Linked DNA regions of Homo sapiens: all the other regions are reported to be linked to region 1. Evidence: microRNA targets listed by miRTarBase, many of them from high-throughput screens and not tested one by one. Region 1 holds a microRNA gene; each other region holds the end of a gene's coding sequence.
The links. Region 1 holds the annotated microRNA hsa-miR-485-5p (AGAGGCUGGCCGUGAUGAAUUC, at 1,945-1,966, opposite strand). A microRNA usually pairs through its seed, bases 2 to 8, with sites in the 3' UTR of a target mRNA and lowers its output. Matches are read on the target gene's strand: a 7mer-m8 pairs with bases 2 to 8, a 7mer-A1 pairs with bases 2 to 7 and ends in A, and an 8mer does both.

Region 2: the mRNA of BAZ2A is a reported target of hsa-miR-485-5p. Seed matches in the 3' UTR shown: 7mer-m8 at 2,183-2,189, 8mer at 2,381-2,388, 7mer-m8 at 2,589-2,595 and 7mer-A1 at 3,533-3,539.
Region 3: miRTarBase lists NFAT5 as a target of hsa-miR-485-5p. The part of its 3' UTR that is shown has no 7-base or 8-base seed match.
Region 4: the mRNA of PAQR7 is a reported target of hsa-miR-485-5p. Seed matches in the 3' UTR shown: 7mer-m8 at 1,727-1,733.
Region 5: miRTarBase lists SCARF1 as a target of hsa-miR-485-5p. Seed matches in the 3' UTR shown: 7mer-m8 at 1,333-1,339.

Annotation. Positions count from the first base shown.
Region 1 is chr14:101,053,505-101,057,392 of GRCh38, reverse strand. MIR485 (microRNA 485) reads right to left here and starts at 1,974; the gene lies at 1,902-1,974. It overlaps MIR382 (microRNA 382), which reads right to left and starts at 3,087; the gene lies at 3,012-3,087. It overlaps MIR134 (microRNA 134), which reads right to left and starts at 2,706; the gene lies at 2,634-2,706. MIR668 (microRNA 668) reads right to left here and starts at 2,135; the gene lies at 2,070-2,135. It also overlaps MIR323B.
Region 2 is chr12:56,596,093-56,599,980 of GRCh38, reverse strand. It overlaps BAZ2A (bromodomain adjacent to zinc finger domain 2A), which reads left to right. Exons shown (of 29, transcript NM_001300905.2): 25 at 1-17; 26 at 133-279; 27 at 623-852; 28 at 970-1,113; 29 at 1,198-3,888. The coding sequence ends at 1,363. It overlaps RBMS2 (RNA binding motif single stranded interacting protein 2), which reads right to left. Exons shown (of 14, transcript NM_002898.4): 14 at 3,788-3,888. Among named protein-coding and RNA genes, the nearest start is that of BAZ2A, 32 kb to the left of the region's middle.
Region 3 is chr16:69,694,508-69,698,395 of GRCh38, forward strand. It overlaps NFAT5 (nuclear factor of activated T cells 5), which reads left to right. Exons shown (of 15, transcript NM_138713.4): 14 at 629-872; 15 at 1,853-3,888. The coding sequence ends at 864. Among named protein-coding and RNA genes, the nearest start is that of SNORD13H, 12 kb to the right of the region's middle.
Region 4 is chr1:25,859,756-25,863,643 of GRCh38, reverse strand. It overlaps PAQR7 (progestin and adipoQ receptor family member 7), which reads left to right. Exons shown (of 3, transcript NM_178422.6): 3 at 1-2,160. The coding sequence ends at 845. Among named protein-coding and RNA genes, the nearest start is that of AUNIP, 2.2 kb to the right of the region's middle. RefSeq lists enhancers at 227-996, 3,281-3,888, 3,780-3,888 and a silencer at 3,370-3,429.
Region 5 is chr17:1,631,735-1,635,622 of GRCh38, reverse strand. SCARF1 (scavenger receptor class F member 1) reads left to right here. Exons shown (of 11, transcript NM_003693.4): 11 at 6-1,765. The coding sequence ends at 865. Among named protein-coding and RNA genes, the nearest start is that of SLC43A2, 4.8 kb to the right of the region's middle.

The DNA.
Region 1 (3,888 bases):
AAAAAAACAAACCTTGTGGTCAGAAATGAATTCATTTAAATATAGAACTATGGCAAAACACCTGCAAGAATTATAGTTCTAGAACAAATTGCAGATATTTATAATGTAAAATTAAAATGTATAATTGAGAAAAAGCAGGAGATAGTAAGCAAAGGAAGAATAAGAATGCTGACTTCTTTATCTTTCTGAACTAGGAGTGAAATTGAAATAGTTAAAAACCATAACAATCCTAACCACTTAATTTTTACACTCTAATTTTTCTTAATTTTACAGGGATCTTTTAGGAGTTGCTACCTGTGGTGGTAAAGCGAGAAACATTTATCAATCATTTCAATCTCCTTTAGCTTGTTTTTTATGATAAATTCAAGGAAAATTATAGTTAGCATTTTTAATAAAATGATTAGGTACAGTGTGATCTCATATTTTCCCTGCGTCTGTCTTGTTTTTCTATTTGCATGTATGCTCAGACAGGTGTATGAAATTTCTAAAGCCCTTAATGGTTATTTCTGGGTGCCAGAGAATTGGGCAATTTTCCTTCTTTTTCATTTAGATTTTTCCACATCGCTTGAATTTTATTAAGCATGTGTCATTTTCATAAATATGGTAATAAGGTAGAATAATTATCCTTTTTGAAAAGAAAAACAAGAAATTGAAAATGCAACTGTCTTCTGTTCTTAAATTTGCTGTGGCCTCCAGATCAACAGATGTGGTGAGTCACCCTTCCAGTGAGTCCCCAAGAATGCTGAAATCAACGCCCCTTCCCTGAATTTGTCAACATGTCTAAGAAGTCCTTCCTCCATGGTAAGATTTAATAGTGAAAGAGAAGAGAACTATACATTGTTTTTCTTTAAAAAAAAACACAAAACCCCAGAAGCATCATGGGCACCACCACTTCCTCAGTCACAGAGGGGTCTTGAGCACAGATCACATGCTTCTTCCCCAGGAATGCACTGGCTGAGGATTAGGAGTGCTAGCAGCACCTACCCATTGGTTCCAGGGCCACACACATGTTCAGTTGCACTGGTGTGGAACCAACATGAGTATGGTGTCCCCTAAATCGGCATCAGGTCCAAGAAGACACCTGGTGAGATCTGATACCGAAAAGAGGTCGACCGTGTATTGGGCATCATTAAATAATGCGAACTCACCACGGACAACCTCCCTCCGAGTACCATGAGGTGGCACTGCTCGCAGCATTCCTGCATCTTCTGCACAGCCTGGGCAGCTTGGGAGTGGCCTCTGAGGGTGGATGGGACCCTGAGGATGAGTGGACCAGGTGGCTCAAACCCATGCTCTCCGGCCAACCCCAGGTTCACCAAGCCAGGATTAGTGTGCACAGAAATACCACTTCTTGTGCTCAGCTGGCCATGCAGGCAACATTTAATAATGCAAGGATGTCAGTGGCACAGGAGTCATTAAATATGAAGCAAACCACACACAAATGTGTGTGCAAAAGCAGGCTAAGCACTGCCTCCTTGGTAAACCTGGGATTCCCTTACAGGAATTCTCTGGAGGGTGTAAGGCTGCTGTGGGTTAGTAAACCAGGGGTCGCACAGAGTCCTGTTCCTGTTTTCTTCTGTATCCCGACGGCTGACTAATAAAAGATGCTTCTAGATGCCCAAGATTCAACTCCAAGGTTGAATTTGATAGGAATAAAAAAAGAAGTCAGCCATGTGTATTTCAATCTTAACTTTTAAAAAATTAGGGCATCCCAACAACCTCTCTCGATTTTCCTAAAGTTGGTAGTGCCCCAGGAAGTTGTTTTAGGGTCAGCTTGGACTCTAAAGTTAGTAGGTCAGTTACATGCATCCTCAGGAAAATGCTTGCCATGGGGTCAGCCATCCAGAAACCTACCTTGGAAGCAGCACTGGCTCAGGAAGCCCTCCGAGGCAGAATTTGACACTAAAAGAGAGGAGAGCCGTGTATGACTCGCTTTGATGAATCGAATTCATCACGGCCAGCCTCTCTCCAAGTACCACACATGAACACTGGTGAGAAATCCATTGCCTCTCTGGCAGAGGTGGCCGCCCTTCTCGGGAGTCCTGTTAGGAATGGGTGGGATAGTATTGGGTAGTGGGCCGAGCCGAGTGACATACACCCACATTAAGTGCATGCTCACCCGAGGCGCACTTACCTTAAGGGAGTGCTGAGGGCACTGCCTTCTCCCCAGCAGCAAGGATGCAGTTCGTCCTTCCAGACAAGACAGGGAGCTTTTGCGTAGCTCACTGGTCCCTGACAGGAGAATCATGGCCGCTTCCCAAAGCCGCATTATCTCCATGGAGCCTCCTAGGGAGAGACAGGATGCTGGGTATTAGAGGACGACGTGACAGACCTAACAAAGGCAGCACATGCTCTGGGAAGAAGGATTCAGTCACACACCCAGGAGAAAAGCTGGCCCACATCAGGTCCCTCAACAGAAGACAACATGGCGTCCCACATCGGAAGTCAACACTTCAAGGAGGCTGTCACAGTGGTGAAGGGGCTGCCAAGGCTGACTCATTGCATTTTAAGTAAACATACACCCCCAAGAGCACGTGTCATCGCAGTCCACCAAGCAGTCACAGCAAGTCCATGGCCGCTTCCCCAGAGTTGGTGGGAGCTCTGGAAAGTCTTCCTGGAGTGGGAGTGATGCTGAGGGTTGGTGACTAGGTGGCCCACAGGGTGAACACAGTGCATGCCCCTCTGGTCAACCAGTCACACACCCTGGACGGTGCTGACACCAACATCTCTTCTGGAAGTCGGCCTGGGGCCCAGGGAGCCTCTCTTCAAAGTCTTGTGAGGTGACGCTGGTGACAGAACCACAGCTGATTCCCCAGAGTTGGTGAGACCCATGGGAAGACCTCCTATAGGTGCATGGGAGGCTCGGATTATCGGGCCAGGTGACTTACAGCTAGGTCAGCGCATTGTCCATGGCCCGCCATCCATTCTTGGCTTTTCCACATGGTTGACACAAAGACTATCTTTCCTGAAGCTGCCATTGTGTCCAGGAAGTCCTTAGAGGTAGCATTTGGTACTGAAAAAAGTGTTGTCCGTGAATGATTCGTCATAAGTAAAGCGAATCCACCACGAACAACTTCTCTTCAAGTACCACAGAAAAGCAGAGACAAGACAGACAAGGAGTCCCCTTCCACTTCTCCAAGGGGAGTGGCTGCCAACCACCATCCTGTGGACAGAGTGGACACCGAGCATTAGTGAGGCAGCTTACGGGTGTCCTAGGAACACACTGGAGTTTGGGCAACCCTTCACTCACCTCCCTTGGAGTGGTGCTGGCACAGTCCCCCTTCCCTGGAGTTGAAATTGTGGTCCTGAATCCACACGCACAAGGTTTAGAAATAAGAAGAGGGAAGCCACTTGTCACACGCCAGGAGCACTCCGCAGTGTGTAGACCCCAGGGTTTCTGAACAGGGCCTTGGACTTCTCAACAGAGCACACTGAGTTATCCATCAAGCACATCAAGGTGCCAGCCAGGCTCCCGCAGGGCCCACTGAACTAGGGAGGTCCAGAGGGGGCCCCCTTTTGCCACTGCAGGTGCCCCTAGAGAAACTGCCCAGCTCAGGCACGCCAGGCTCCTGGTAGGTTCCCCATCACTGCCCTGGGTAGATTCTCTATCAATGCCCTTGTGGTCAGAGTGATCTTTCCAACACAGACCACGCATCCCCCCTGCTCACAACCCTTCCAAATCCCCCATCTCACTCAGAATAAAACCTGGAGTCCTGCCTCTCCCAGCTCAGACCCAGCGACTCCCAGCAGCTCGGTTCAATCCCACTGGCCTTCTTGCTTTTTCTTAAAGATGCCAGGGGGCTTTCCATGGGCCTTGCCCTCCTCCTGAAATGCTCCTACCCCAGACCTTCCTCTGGTCCACCCCACTCCATTCCCACCCACATCCTC
Region 2 (3,888 bases), not on the chromosome of region 1:
AGTCTGTCAACAAAGTGGTAAGAGGCTGAGAGAGCCTGGAGAGGCTGAGGGGCCAGCCAGCAGGGGCGGGGTGGGGTCACTGGCAGGTAGAGGCTGGAGAGCTCATTCTGCCTCCTCACAACCTTGGTCCAGACATGTCTAGTCTGCCGGAAGGGTGACAATGATGAGTTTCTTCTGCTTTGTGATGGGTGTGACCGTGGCTGCCACATTTACTGCCATCGTCCCAAGATGGAGGCTGTCCCAGAAGGAGATTGGTTCTGTACTGTCTGTTTGGCTCAGGTAAGGCTTCTGCTCTTTCTTTCCCACACTCAAACAGAAATCAGAGATTATCCTCAATCTCTCCTCTCCTTGGAAAGAGTCCTAGACTGGGTATTAGGGGACCTGGGTTCTAAGTCCTTTTTTGGACAAGTCACTTAAATTCTATAGCTTTAATTGCTGTCTCTATAAAATGAGAATAACTATACCTTCCCTTTTACCTACTTCATTGGGTTATGTGAATAAACCAATGCCGGCTTATGCATGATAGTATTTTGAAGCCTTAAATCATATTTAGGCAGAGATTGTAGTAGGGCAAGCAGTGCATCTCCAGCTGTTGCTAATCTCACCTGTTTCCTATACTAAGCAGGTGGAGGGAGAATTCACTCAGAAGCCTGGTTTCCCAAAGCGTGGCCAGAAGCGGAAAAGTGGTTATTCGCTGAACTTCTCAGAGGGTGATGGCCGCCGACGCCGGGTACTGTTGAGGGGCCGAGAAAGCCCAGCAGCAGGGCCTCGGTACTCGGAAGAAGGGCTCTCCCCCTCCAAGCGGCGGCGACTCTCTATGCGGAACCACCACAGTGATCTCACATTTTGCGAGTGAGTTGAGTGAATCCTGGGGGGACAGTTGGCTCTACCTCTGCCAGAGGAAAGGGCTGGGAGGGGTCAGTATATTTGCTTCCTGAGATGGAGCCATCATTGTCCCTCTAATGATAGGATTATCCTGATGGAGATGGAGTCCCATGATGCAGCCTGGCCTTTCCTAGAGCCTGTGAACCCACGTTTGGTGAGTGGGTACCGGCGCATCATCAAAAATCCTATGGATTTTTCCACCATGCGGGAGCGGCTGCTCAGGGGAGGGTAAGTAGATGTGGGTGAACCGCCCGGTCTTTGCTACTGCTGCAACTCCTACCCAGCTCACAGTTTTGCCCCTGCCCTGTCCAGGTACACCAGCTCAGAGGAGTTTGCGGCTGATGCCCTCCTGGTATTTGACAACTGCCAGACTTTCAACGAGGATGACTCTGAAGTAGGCAAGGCTGGGCACATCATGCGCCGCTTCTTCGAGAGCCGCTGGGAGGAGTTTTATCAGGGAAAACAGGCCAATCTGTGAGGCAAGGGAGGTGGGGAGTCACCTTGTGGCATCTCCCCCCACCTTCCAAACAAAAACCTGCCATTTTCACCTGCTGATGCTGCCCTGGGTCCAGACTCAAGTCAGATACAACCCTGATTTTTGACCTTGCCCTTGGCAGTGCCCCACATCCTCTTATTCCTACATCCCTTTCTCCCTTCCCTCCTCTTGCTCCTCAAGTAAGAGGTGCAGAGATGAGGTCCTTCTGGACTAAAAGCCAAAAAAAGAAAGAAAAAAATAATTTTTCTTTTCTGTTTTATTTGCTAATTAAAAATGGGGAGGGGGAAAGTCGTCCCTACTTCCTCCTCCCTGCTTCCTCTCCTCCCCTGTACGTGCCCCAGCATTCTGGGGTTATTTAACAATAGCAATAGTTCTAGTGAATGTGTGAAACCAAGAAACACTCTGTACTGTGTGCGGACCCGCAGTGACGGCCAGTAAAGTGGACTTAACTCCCAAGTGTGTCGCGCCGGACACCGGGCCCTGGACATGCTGCTTCCATGTTCAGTCCCTTCCCTGCTTCTCGCTGTCTTTCTTTTCCCACCTCCCACCCCCCAGTTTTCAGATTTTCTCTCATCCAATAATGTAAAACTATCGTGTACGGGTTCCTCCCTCCTTTTCTCTTCTCCCAAATCTTTTCCCTTCAAAGGAAAAAAAAATGTTCAGAGGTCCCTGTCTTCTGTCCCCATCTTCCTGCCGATAGCTATCCCCTGTATGATGTTGGATGCTCCTCACATGCTGAGTTTCCAGCCTTTTCTGAAACTCAGTAGCTGGGGAGAGGGCAGGGAGGCTTCCTGGGCCTTCCAGCCTCCTTCCCCACCTCCTTCCCAAACCCTCTTGGGAACTCCTCAGGGACAACTACTGCTGAGTTTGGGTGCACCCTAAGATGGAGGCCAGGTAGCAATGGGGCCGGCCTCAGAGAGAGCGCTGTGTGTGTGTGTGTGTGTGTGTGTGTGTGTGTGTGTCGGCCTCAGAGCGCGCTGTGTGTGTGTGTGTGTGTGTCAGCCTCAGAGCGCGCGCTGTGTGTGTGTGTGTGTGTGCGTGCTTGTGACCCTGTATTGTTTGATAGGATCCATTCAGTTTCCCCAAGTACCTGTTTTCATTCCCATTTTTCCCATTGTTTAAAACCATCACTTTTTTGTCTTTGGGAAACCACAGGAACAATTTCTCTGGAGACAAGGCTGTGTCTCTCTCCTGGTCATTTTTGTTCCAGCCTCTTCAGACTGTGCAATCTTTCAGCAGGAACTCCCTCTCTTCTCGGTAGCTTTGAATCTTAAGCTTCTACGGGAGAGTGGTAGAACTGGATCATTTCCTAATCCCATTTAGTTGTGCTTTTCTTCATTTACTTCATACCCCAGGACCCCTTCCCCAGCAGCAGAGACCCTGGAGCACAGGAGAGTAGGGAGGAGGGGTTCTGGGTCCATCACTGCCCTACATGTGACTATGTCCAAGTTAAGCCCCCAACACGAGAGGAAAGCTGCTGACTCCCAGCTATAGCCATGGGCACTTGGCCCCCTGCTTTTCCTGCTCAGCAGAGCCCCTCCCTTCAGAGATTACGGGTACTTGCACTGGGGAGGTGGCTGCTGGCTGGCCCAAGCAGAGAGCTGAGGCATCCAAGAAATGTTCCATTGGGGGGTGGGGGTGCCAGGTGAGGTGGAGCATTCCTTGTATTCTGGCAGCACTGAAGAGCCACTGAAGGGGGTAGGGGCAGTGTAGGTCCTGGGGCAGCCCCTTTATTCCTTTATGCCCCTTCTCCCTCATAGCCTATTTCTAAAGTCGCCTTTTCTGTCAGATAAACCTCAAAACTTTTAATTTTATTTGAGATTTTTTTTTGCTTTTAAGAGGTGGATTGAAGAATATTTGAATTGACTTTATATTATGCATAAATATTTATATTTTATCTAAATAACTGCGCTGTAACAAACTTTGTGTTAGACAGTTGAAACTGTTAGAGTTGGGGGCTCTGCTTTTTCCCCCTGGCAATTTTCCCCTGGTATAAGATGTGCTAGATTAATTTCATTGTGAGGTGGATGGGGGAGTGAAATTGTGAGGTGGATGGGGGAGTGAAATCTCCATGGTTCCTGCTTTGTGTTCCTCTCCCAGCTCCATCTCTTTCCCTAGGGACCAGGCACTCATATGGCGGGGTGGGGTCCTAGCCTCAGTTTGAAGAAGTGGGGGCTGGAGCGGGGTTGGGGGTGGTAGGGATAGGGCATGATCAAAGGGGCCATTTCTTGCTTTTCTTTCCTCATCTTCACTGCCCCCTTGAGCTAGGTGGATTTTCTCTTCATGACAAGAGTATTTGGTAGGGAAAGCAGGTTTAAAATAAAAAGACAACCCACCCCCTGCCCTTTTGCTTCCCTCCCATCAGTCTGGTTGACAGGAAGAAACCACACCATCAACACCAACAAGTTTCTGTGTTCCTTTTACAGCAAAAGGGACTTTTTATATAACCAAATGTGGTGTTTTAGTGACTTTTTGATAATGTACAGTTTTTTGTGAATTTAAATTTA
Region 3 (3,888 bases), not on the chromosome of region 1:
GCCTCCCAAAGTGCTGGGATTACAGGCGTGAGCCACCACACCTGTCCTGTATAGTTGTTTTAAGAGTACAGATTGTAGTTAGAACTCTATCACCTATAGACTATAAGATCTTGTACAAGTTATTTGGCTTTTATGGGTCTCAATTCTCTCATTTAAAATGGTGATAATATTACATACTTTACATGGATTTGGGGAGGATTAAATATGGCAATGTATAAAAATGTGTGTTTGCCATTTTAAGCTATAAACTTAAAAGGAAAATGAAGTCAGAATGACAGATAATACCTTACCCAGTTGAAGTAAGTAGTTTCTAAGGAGGTAGAAACTCATCTTTAATGTTTATATACCAAGGAATTTATATAGGACTTTTGATATTTAAGCAAAGTTGTATTTTTAGACTGCTTAAAGGAAACCTAAGATGAATTCCAGTGCCAGTCTGTGAAAACCTTTTTCTTGGACTATCAGGTGCCTAACTTTTAGTAATATACAAGGAGAATGCAGTAATGAATTTTCCCCAACAACTAATAAATATCTTTTCATGAATCTTTACTAATCAGATAGCTTCTATTTTTAATGTTTCTGCAGACTGTAGTCAGCTTTTAAGCTTCTGTTTTCAATGTCTCTGCAGACTGTAGTCAGCTTTTAACCTCTGGACCAGCTACATTGCCTGATCAGTTGATGGCCATAAGTCAGCCAGGCCAACCACAAAACGAGGGCCAGCCACCTGTGACAACACTTCTTTCTCAGCAAATGCCAGAGAATTCTCCACTGGCATCCTCTATAAACACCAACCAGAACATCGAAAAGATTGATTTGCTTGTTTCATTGCAAAACCAAGGGAACAACTTGACTGGCTCCTTTTAACTGGATATGTAAGTATTGCATTTTGGCTTCTTATTGAAAAGCATCAGATTTTATTCTTCTTAACAGATTTAGGTTAAGTAATAGTAGTTCTAATCTTTTAAAATGTGGCTTTCTCACAAGATGATACTTTTTTACTCTGAATAAAATTATTCTGAATGATAGCTTATGGTCATATAGTTAATACAGACCAGGCCGGGCGTGGTGGCTCATGCCTGTAATCCCAGCACTTTGAGAGACCAAGGTGGGCGGATCACGAGGTCAGGCGATCGAGACCATCCTGGCTAACATGGTGAAACCCCGTCTCTACTAAAAAATACAAAAAAAAAAAAAAATACAGACCAAACATCCCTAGTCCAAAAATCCAAAATCCAAAATGCTCTGAAATCCGAATCTTTTTGAGTGCTGACATGACATCTCAAGTGGAAAATTCCACACCTAACCTCATATGATAGGGTCATAGTCAAAAGTCAGGCTCACAACATGCAGTTTATTTGGTGTCCCCAAGGGTAAAAAAGATCCTTCCAGCTCCCTTCAGCTGTGATAGATTTTTTTAGGTGTATGTGAAACAGAAGTGAATTTCATGTTTGGACTTGTGTCTTATCCCCAAGATATCTCATTGTGTATATGTGCATATTCCAAAATCCAAAAAAGAAATCAGAAACACTTCTGATCCCAAACATTTTAGATAAGGGATACTCAACCTATATTGGACATTCCTTCTGCCTCTGAGCTTCTTTGCCTTGGAATAACAAAACATCTGATGAGTATGCAAAATGTGTTTCCTTTGTACTATATATTGGATATAACCATGCCTCACTTATCCCTTCCTCCAGAAATAAATATTGAGTCAGAAAAGTCTGTGGAAGATCAAATATGATAAAGTTTTACTTACAGTACCATAATATACTTTAGGATCATTCAGGGTGTCAGAAACTTTATAAATGCTTCCCTCCCTAGTAAGTTAAATTAAACTTTTTCTCTTTTTTAGAAATTCCACGAAGAAAATCCTGATTCCAAGATGTCCTGAGATCTTGTGGTTCCATGAGAATTATTACTTTAAAAACAAAACAAAATATAAAAAACTGTGTTTGAGTAAACTGATAGATTTTACTCTGACTGCAAAAGAGCACACCTATGCTGCTTGTTGCAGTAACTAACCACCAATGTTAACATCTTCATATTTTATATTCCTAATAACAGTGATGACTGAGAATCTATTTGAGTTTCCAGCTGGCAGAATTAATTGTTATTATTTTCCTAGGCGCAATTTCCTTAAACGTACAGTTTAAATTCAAGGCTGGACCACTCAGTTATTATTGCTATTAGAAAATAATATATCATGTTTACTTTTGTTCTTCATTATTTTCTTTCCTGCATTGTTTTAGTCAAGTAATGGCTTTTGAAAAAGTAAAGTTCAATAATAACTAAGGCTGTGATTTTTTTCAATATAAAAGGCACAGCTGTTGGCCAAAGTGAAGGAATCTTTTTTCAGTTTTATTGGAGAAACTGAAGGGTAACATTCTAACAAGTAAACTGTATGTGCAGATAAAAGTACTCTTGATTTAACACAAAGGCAGATGATACACTTATAAAACTGGGAACAGCTGGAATGCTTCTTGATTTTATTTTTTCAGAGAGTTGTTAGTTCTCTGGGTTTCTACTAAGGGGTTTAGCCATAACTGTGCATAGAAAAATAATTATCTGTAAAAAATGAAGGGGATAATATATGATAAATTATGTTCTGATATCCTCCTACAGTAGTTTAAATTGACAGAAAAATTTGAATGTTTTCTTCTTAACCCAGTCTTAGGCTGGTATTCCCTTTTTATATATATCTATATTACTTTTCACCTCTTTTTCACTTTACTTTAGAGAACTATTAATATACTACTGGCTTCATGACCCTGTAGCATCTTTGGCCACTTTAATCTAGGGTGACCTAGCAATCCTGCAGCACAGGGCAGAGAGTACTGTCTTAGGAATTATTAGGAGTTGATTCCTGAGAAACAACACATTTTTCCCCATGAACGGTGCTGTTCTGAAGTCTTCAAATTTTTCCCTCTAATAGGAAACAGTATAAATTTTAATTAAAAAAAAAAGGCAAACTAAAATTTCTTGAAATATCACTTCTCCCTGATCTGCAGTGAGTATAAATTCACTTGTCACCTCAGTGCTTTACAGTTTGAAGTGGTCACTTACCTGATGGTTCCCACAAGCCTTAGGCTTTACAGGGTTGTATCATTGACTTAAAATGAAGAATTAACTTGTGTTACATCTATAAAGAGCAAAATAACACACTCCAGAACTTGGCAGTTGTAGCATTAGTTATACAGTTTTGGGTGTTCTTGCCACCCGTGGGATGCCTGCTTCTCACTACCACCTGTGTCTGGACACATGCTTATGTCTCATTTTCCTTTTGGCATGTGGAAAGCTGTCAATGCAGTGTAAGGCCAACGTGTGTGTGGCTTCTATGTGTTGAGATAATGTTTTGGTATCCTTGTCCGTTTCATTTATTTTTTAAGTGTACAAAAAATAACCTGTTAATTGTTGAAGGCTACTTTTCTGTTCTTTTTTTTTTTTTTTTTCTATCCTGTACATTTAGTTGAACTGTGCGGAATTGTGGTGTTGGTTTTGTTTACACAGCCAGATTTTTCCTTCTTTTTGTTTTGTGATGATCTTCCTTTGTTCTTTGAATGTGCTCTTTTGTCTTTTTCTCTTTTTTCTCATGTTTTCTTCCCTCCACCTCCACCCCTTTCTTTCTTTCTCTCTCTGATTGAGAGGCATTGAATTACGTTTTCAGTAGTACAGGCTTCTTGCCGATATGAAGGGAACTTTTCAGAAAGAGACCTACTCTGGGTCATTTAATTTTGAATACAGTTTTCAATCGTTCAAGTTTTGGATGGTTTATATCTAATGTGTGTTTCATTTTTTTGGAAAGCTATATTTTGTATTTAGGAAATGGTATACTATTTTGCTATTTGTACTGAGTGAGTACATTGGCATAAATATAGAAATTTATATATA
Region 4 (3,888 bases), not on the chromosome of region 1:
TCCAGCAGCACAACGAGGCCGTGAATGTCTGGACCCACCTGCTGGCGGCCCTGGTACTGCTGCTGCGGCTGGCCCTCTTTGTGGAGACCGTGGACTTCTGGGGAGACCCACACGCCCTGCCCCTCTTCATCATTGTCCTTGCCTCTTTCACCTACCTCTCCTTCAGTGCCTTGGCTCACCTCCTGCAGGCCAAGTCTGAGTTCTGGCATTACAGCTTCTTCTTCCTGGACTATGTGGGGGTGGCCGTGTACCAGTTTGGCAGTGCCTTGGCACACTTCTACTATGCTATCGAGCCCGCCTGGCATGCCCAGGTGCAGGCTGTTTTTCTGCCCATGGCTGCCTTTCTCGCCTGGCTTTCCTGCATTGGCTCCTGCTATAACAAGTACATCCAGAAACCAGGCCTGCTGGGCCGCACATGCCAGGAGGTGCCCTCCGTCCTGGCCTACGCACTGGACATTAGTCCTGTGGTGCATCGTATCTTCGTGTCCTCCGACCCCACCACGGATGATCCAGCTCTTCTCTACCACAAGTGCCAGGTGGTCTTCTTTCTGCTGGCTGCTGCCTTCTTCTCTACCTTCATGCCCGAGCGCTGGTTCCCTGGCAGCTGCCATGTCTTCGGGCAGGGCCACCAACTTTTCCACATCTTCTTGGTGCTGTGCACGCTGGCTCAGCTGGAGGCTGTGGCACTGGACTATGAGGCCCGACGGCCCATCTATGAGCCTCTGCACACGCACTGGCCTCACAACTTTTCTGGCCTCTTCCTGCTCACGGTGGGCAGCAGCATCCTCACTGCATTCCTCCTGAGCCAGCTGGTACAGCGCAAACTTGATCAGAAGACCAAGTGAAGGGGGATGGCATCTGGTAGGGAGGGAGGTATAGTTGGGGGACAGGGGTCTGGGTTTGGCTCCAGGTGGGAACAAGGCCTGGTAAAGTTGTTTGTGTCTGGCCCACAGTGACTCTCTGTGCACGACTCAACTGCCAAGGGCATCACTGGCCAATTCTTGGATTTAGGGATTGGCTAGGAGTTGCTGGGGTCCACTCCTGGGCCTGCCCCAGCTCCTTGCCCAGGGAGAGGGAAAGAGTTAACGGTGTGGGCCACTCCAGCTTGCCCTTCCACTGCCACTCACTGGGGTGAGGCTGGGGGTCAGCTTGGTGAGGATTGGGGCTTCTAGATTGTCTAGGCAGGAGGTGAAACTTAGGCCAGAGTCAGATTTGAGCTGAGCCAGGGGAGGCCTTGGCAACCTACTTCTACTCAGATTTCATTGCTGGATGCGGAAGGGGTAGGCCCAAAATATATACAGGATCTTACTGTCCCTTGAAGCCCAGCCACAAGTGTTGGAGCTGCAGAGAGACCCCAAAGGTAGTAGATTGTGCCAGATACAAATGGGTCCCATCCAGTGCTTCATACTCCTTCAGTCACTATCCCAGACAGTGAGCCCCAGATCTCCTAGCTCTGGCTTCTGTGTCCCACACGGCCTGTTCCCAGCTTCTCTCCTGGTTCCCTTGTTACGGATTCATTTATCCATTCAGTGTTTCCTGGGCCTCTGCTCAGAGGCAGGTCACCACTGGGCCCTGTGGATCAATGCAAGATGACAAAGGCTTTTTTTTTTTTTTTTTTTTTTTTTTTTTTTGAGGAGTTTCGCTCTTGTTGGCTAGGCTGGAGTAAAATGGTGCGATCTCGGCTCACTGCACCTCCGCCTCCCAGGTTCAAGCGATTTTCCTGCCTCAGCCTCCCGAGTAGCTGGGGTTACAGGCATGCACCACCATGCCTGGCTAATTTTCTGTATTTTTAGTAGAGACGGGGTTTCTCCATGTTGGTCAGGCTGGTCTTGAACTCCTGACCTCAGGTGATCTGCCCGTCTCGGCCTCCCAAAGTGCTGGGATTACCGGCATGAGCCACTGCGCCTGGCCGACAAAGGCTTTGATATCAGAATGAACTGTCAAGGGAGGTGCTGGAGAGGGATTAACCTGTGCTGCCTGGGACCCTCAGGGTCTTAGGTTGGGGAGTGTGAATAGGAGTTTGCAGATGGAGAATAGGAAGGGCATTCCAGGCAGAGGGAAACCTGTGCAGAGACCAAGAGGTGTGGAAGGAAAAGTGGGGTTGGGGCTGGGTGGTCTGGATTATGGCCTGGATGCAATAAAGTACTGTGACAGTAGCCACCTCTTTGTTTTTTGTCTCCTGTTTCCGGGAGGGGCCCCTGCTCACATTACTGGAGGTTTTCCGGAGGAAGCTGGGGCCCCTGGGAGTGGACACAGGGTGCAGGGAGCAGTTCTTGTTTTATCTTTGCTGGGGGATGGGGTTGGGGCCTTATATACCATATCTATATATACAAAATTTGTTTGGCAAGGGAGTGGGCGGCAGTTTTATTACTAAAGTTTTATAAGTAGTTAAAATAATGTGTTTAAAATATGATAATCCCACTTTATGATCTGACAAAGACTTTTTTTGTTTGGTTTTTCCTTCAATTAAGGAGGGTTTTTTTGTTTTGTTTTTAGTGGAGGGGGCAGGGGCGTGCACACTCCACCACACATATTGAGCCTCGTCGCATGCGCACCGAAGAAGTATGTTAACTTTTATAATATTGCTTTTTCCATAGTACACAGCAATATATATACAATGAAGGAAAATTGGGAAGATAAGAAAACCCAAATTAATTAGAAATATCACTTCACTGCTGAAATATCATGGGGGACCTTATGAAATACACACACACACACACACACACACACACACACACACACACATAAAATATGTGTATATAAATAAATATTTTGATATAGGCCAGGCATGGTGACTCACGCTTGTAATCCCAGCACTTTGGGAGGCTGAGGCAGGCATATCACCTGAGGGCAGGAAGTTGAGACCAGTCTGGCCAACATGGCGAAAACCCATCTCTACTAAAAATACAAAAATTAGCCAGGCGTGGTGGCACACACCTGTAGTCCCAGCTACTTGGGAGGCTGAGGTGGCAGGATCGCTTGAGCCCAAGAGGTTGAGGCTGCAGTGAGCTGAGACTGTGCCACTGTACCCGAGCCTGGGTGACAAAGCGAGATGGCTCTGTCCACCATGAAGACAGGCTCTGGCTGCAGAGATGGTTGAGGTTCCTGGCTGACCTGCTGCAGACTGGGCAAGAGGTGGCTGAGCTTCTATCCTCCCTCCACCAAAAAAAAAAAATTACAAAATTTTTGGCCGGGCGCGGTGGCTCATGCCTGTAATCCCAGCACTTTGGGAGGCTGAGGCAGGCGTATCACGAGGTCAGGAGTTCGAGACCAGCCTGGCCAATGGTGAAACCCCGTCTCTACTAAAAATACAAAAATTAGCTGGGTGTGGTGGCGTGCGCCTGTACTTCCAGCTACTAGGGAGGCTGAGACAGAAGAACCGCTTGAACCCAGGAGGCGGGGCTGCAGTGAGCCGAGATAGCGCCACTGCACTCCAGCCTGGGCGACAGTGAGACTCCGTCTCAAAAAAAAATTTTTTTTACATATACAATATGTAAACATTACGTATAATGTACATATATTCCATCTATGGAGATTGTGGTTAGGGACGGAAGGATGGGTGGGGGTGCCAACATTTTTGCATTTCCAAGGGGTTTTCTGAATTCACAAAGTACTTTCACAACCTCATTTGATCCTCTTTAAAATCCAAGGCACAGTAAACGGTGAAAGCAGGACTGAAATCTAGTTCCTGACCCCAAATTTTAACCTCTTCAAAATCCTCTCCCATGTGGCTTCGTAGTTACGCTTACATTAAAAAAAAAAAATTACCAAAGTTGTTCGCACACTCGAGTGTCTGGTAACCACTTAGGTCGAGGACCCCTGGTCTGGAGTCGACGGGCCTGATCTCGGCTCAGCCACTTCCTTCTGGGGGTGATCGCGAAGATTCAG
Region 5 (3,888 bases), not on the chromosome of region 1:
GCCAGGGATGGTCCCTGTGGCCCAGGCAGGGTCGTCAGAGGCCAGCCTGGCTGCAGGTGCTTTCCCGCCCCCTGAGGACGCCTCCACGCCATTCGCCATCCCGCGCACCTCCAGCCTAGCTCGGGCCAAGCGGCCATCGGTCTCCTTCGCGGAAGGTACCAAGTTTGCACCACAGAGTCGCCGAAGCTCAGGGGAGCTCTCCAGCCCGCTCCGAAAGCCCAAGAGGCTCTCCCGGGGGGCGCAGTCGGGTCCTGAGGGCCGGGAAGCCGAAGAGTCCACAGGCCCAGAGGAAGCAGAAGCCCCCGAGTCCTTTCCGGCGGCTGCCAGTCCCGGGGATTCAGCCACTGGCCACCGGCGGCCCCCACTTGGTGGCCGGACAGTGGCTGAGCACGTGGAAGCCATTGAGGGCAGCGTCCAGGAGAGCTCGGGCCCTGTGACCACGATCTACATGCTGGCAGGGAAGCCCCGCGGATCCGAAGGCCCTGTCCGCTCTGTCTTCCGCCATTTTGGTAGCTTCCAGAAAGGCCAGGCGGAAGCCAAGGTCAAGAGGGCCATCCCTAAGCCTCCGCGCCAGGCCCTGAATCGGAAAAAGGGCAGCCCTGGCCTTGCCTCTGGCTCTGTCGGCCAGAGCCCCAACTCAGCCCCAAAAGCTGGGCTTCCTGGGGCCACAGGGCCTATGGCAGTCAGACCAGAGGAAGCGGTCCGGGGGCTGGGGGCTGGCACCGAGAGTTCAAGGAGAGCCCAGGAGCCAGTCTCTGGCTGTGGCTCCCCAGAACAGGATCCCCAGAAGCAGGCTGAAGAGGAAAGGCAGGAGGAACCTGAGTATGAGAATGTTGTACCCATCTCCAGGCCACCAGAACCCTGATGACCTTGAATTTGGGGAGTGGGGAGAGTGGATGGACTAGACTGTGCTGTGTGCTGGAAAATGATCCCGGGGCCAGGACAGACAAACCAGAGCCTCTGCGCCTCCACAGGGAAAAGGCAAGGCTTCCAGGCCAGTTGGCCCAGGCCCCTGGCAGTGCTCCCGGAGGGGCCCAGGAAGGCCTGGGCAGAGACCCTGTAGGATGGGGTCAGGAAGGGTTGCCTGCAGGGACTTTTGCTCTGCTGTCCTGGACCCTGTGTGCCTCATAAGGGCTATTCTTTCTTTCACGTGCAAAACATTTTTCTGAAATAGCAAACAACCTACATGTTTGCTGATAAAAGATTGGCTAAACAAATTTTTTTTTTTTTTTTTGAGACAGAATCTCCCTCTGTCCCCCAGGCTGGAGTGCAGTGGTGCGATCTCGGCTCACTGCAAGCTCTGCCTCCCGGGTTCACGCCCTTCTCCTGCCTCAGCCTCCCGAGTAGCTGGGACTACAGGTGCCCTCCACCACGCTTGGCTAATTTTTTTGTATATTTAATAGAGACAGGGTTTCACCATGTTAGCCAGGATGGTCTCGATCTCCTGACCTCGTGATCCACCTGCCTCGGCCTCCCAAAGTGCTGGGATGACAGGCATGAGCCACCACGCCTGGTCTATGAACTTTTTAAAAAGGATGTATGTGTATAAAAACAGATTCAAGGGAAAGGCACTAAATGGTTTTTTCCTCTGGAAGATGAGATTGTAGGTGATATTTATTTTCTTCTGAAACTTTTGTATAGTTTGCAAATTTTCTACAGTGAACATTCTTTTTTACTTTTGTTACTAGATTGAATTTGATAAAGTATAATAAAAAGCAATGATCTTTGTTAAAAAAATAAAAAGTACTAACATTACAGACATGTATAAAGTAAAACGGAGATTTCCTTTCTCCCCAGAGGCGTCTGTGGGTCAAGAGAGAGGTAGAATCTACTTTTCCCTGGCAGCTTTTTGGTCTTGTTTGAATTCTTTGCTCACATATTACCTAGTCAGAAAAGAAAAGGGGCAACCCTCCCCCCGAGCTTTATTTTTTTTTTTTTTAAGATGGAGTCTCAGTCTGTCACCCAGGCCGGAGTGCAGTGGTATGATCTCGGCTCACTGCCACCTCTGTCTCCCCGGTTCAAGCGATTCTCCTGCCTCAGCCTCCTGAGTGGCTGGGATTACAAGCGCCCGCCACCATGCCCGGCTAATTTTTGTATTTTTTGGTGGAGACAGGGTTTCACCATGTTGGCCAGGCTGGTCTTGAACTCCCAAACTCAAGGGCTCCACAGCTTCGGCCTCCCAGAGTGTTGGGATTATAGGCATGAGCCACCGCGCCCGGCCAGGGGCAGCCCCTTCTATCTCAGTGCTCAGAGAGTCTCATCAACAGTTGAGGTGCTTTCTTTCAGATGTTTTTCTGTGTACATGTCAACAAATATTTTAAACAAAAAATTTTAGCATACTAAGCATACTGTTCCTCAGCTTCTTTTTTTTTTTTTTTTTTTCTTTTTGAGACGAAGTTTTGCTCTGTTGCCCAGGCTGGAGTGCAGTGGTGCAATCTCAGCTCACTGCAACCTCTGCCTCCCGGGTTCAAGCGATTCTCCTGCCTCAGCCTGCTGAGTAGCTGCAATTACAGGTGTGTGCCACCACACCCAGCTAATTTTTGTATTAGTAGAGATGGGGTTTCACCATGTTGGCCAGGCTGTTCTCGAACTCCTGACCCGCCTTGGTCTCCCGAAGTGCTGGGATTACAAGCGTGAGCCACCGCGGCCAGCCTCAACTTGCTTTTTTACTTAACGACATATCCTGGATATAGTTCAATGTCCATAAATGTAAAGCTAACTCTCTTTATTTAAAAAATGACTACATGAGATTCCATCTAGCACAATTATTTAAATCATTCCCCCGCCAATGGAAGGTTGGGTTGTTCTGATCTGTTTTGATACAATAAGCAATGACATAGTATACAACTTTGTCCATATTTATTTATTTATTTATTTTTTGAGATGGAGTTTCACTCTTGTTGCCCAGGCTGGAGTGCAATGGCACGATCTCAGCTCACTGCAACCTCGGCCTCCTAGGTTCAAGCGATTCTCCTGCCTCAGCCTCTCGAGTAGCCGGGACTACAGGCGCATGCCACCACGTGCAGCTAATTTTTTTGCATTTTTAGTAGAGATGGAGTTTTGCCATGTTGGCCAGGTTGCTCTCGAACTCCTGACCTCAGAAGATCTTCCCACCTTGGCCTCCTAAAGTGCCGAGATTACAGGTGTGAGCCACTGTGCCCAGCCACTAAAGCTTCTAAAAAGTATATATAATTTTTGTGTGTGTGTTTAGCCATCAACAATTATATCTCATTACAATTTAAAGTTCTATGAGTATTCTAAGGTTGTTTCTTTTCCGTCTTGGCTCACTGCAACCTCCGCCTCCCAGGTTCAAGCCATTCTTGTGCCTCAGCCTCCTGAGTAGCTGGAATTACAGGCGCCCACCACCATGCCCAGCTAATTTTTGTACTTTTTGTAGAGATGGGGTTTTGCCATGTTGGCCAGGCTGGTCTCGAACTCCTGACCTCAGGTGATCCACCCACCTCAGCCTCCCAAAGTGCTGGGATTCCAGGTGTGAGCCACCGCACCTGGCCATTTGCCCCTTTTCAGGAGTTCATGTTTTCATTCCACAAACTCATATTGTGCAACTGCTTTGTGCTTGCTTCTCTATCAAGGGCTGGTCATACAAAGTTGAATAAGACACCGTCCTGCCCCCAAAGAGTTCATAGTCAATTAGAGAGGAAGGCAAACAGACGAATAGCTAATTATAAAACAATGCCAGCAGTGGACAAATAAAGTGAACAGTATTAATGGGGAGTGGTTAGGGAAGGCTTCCCAGCGGAGGTGCCGTCCAAAATGAGGCTATGTCGCGAGCTAGAGGAGAGAGAACAGCAGGTGCAGAAACCACAGGCAATTCCATGTGACTGGAGCATCGGGGACCAGGCAGGTCAGATGTCCTTCAGAGGGAGG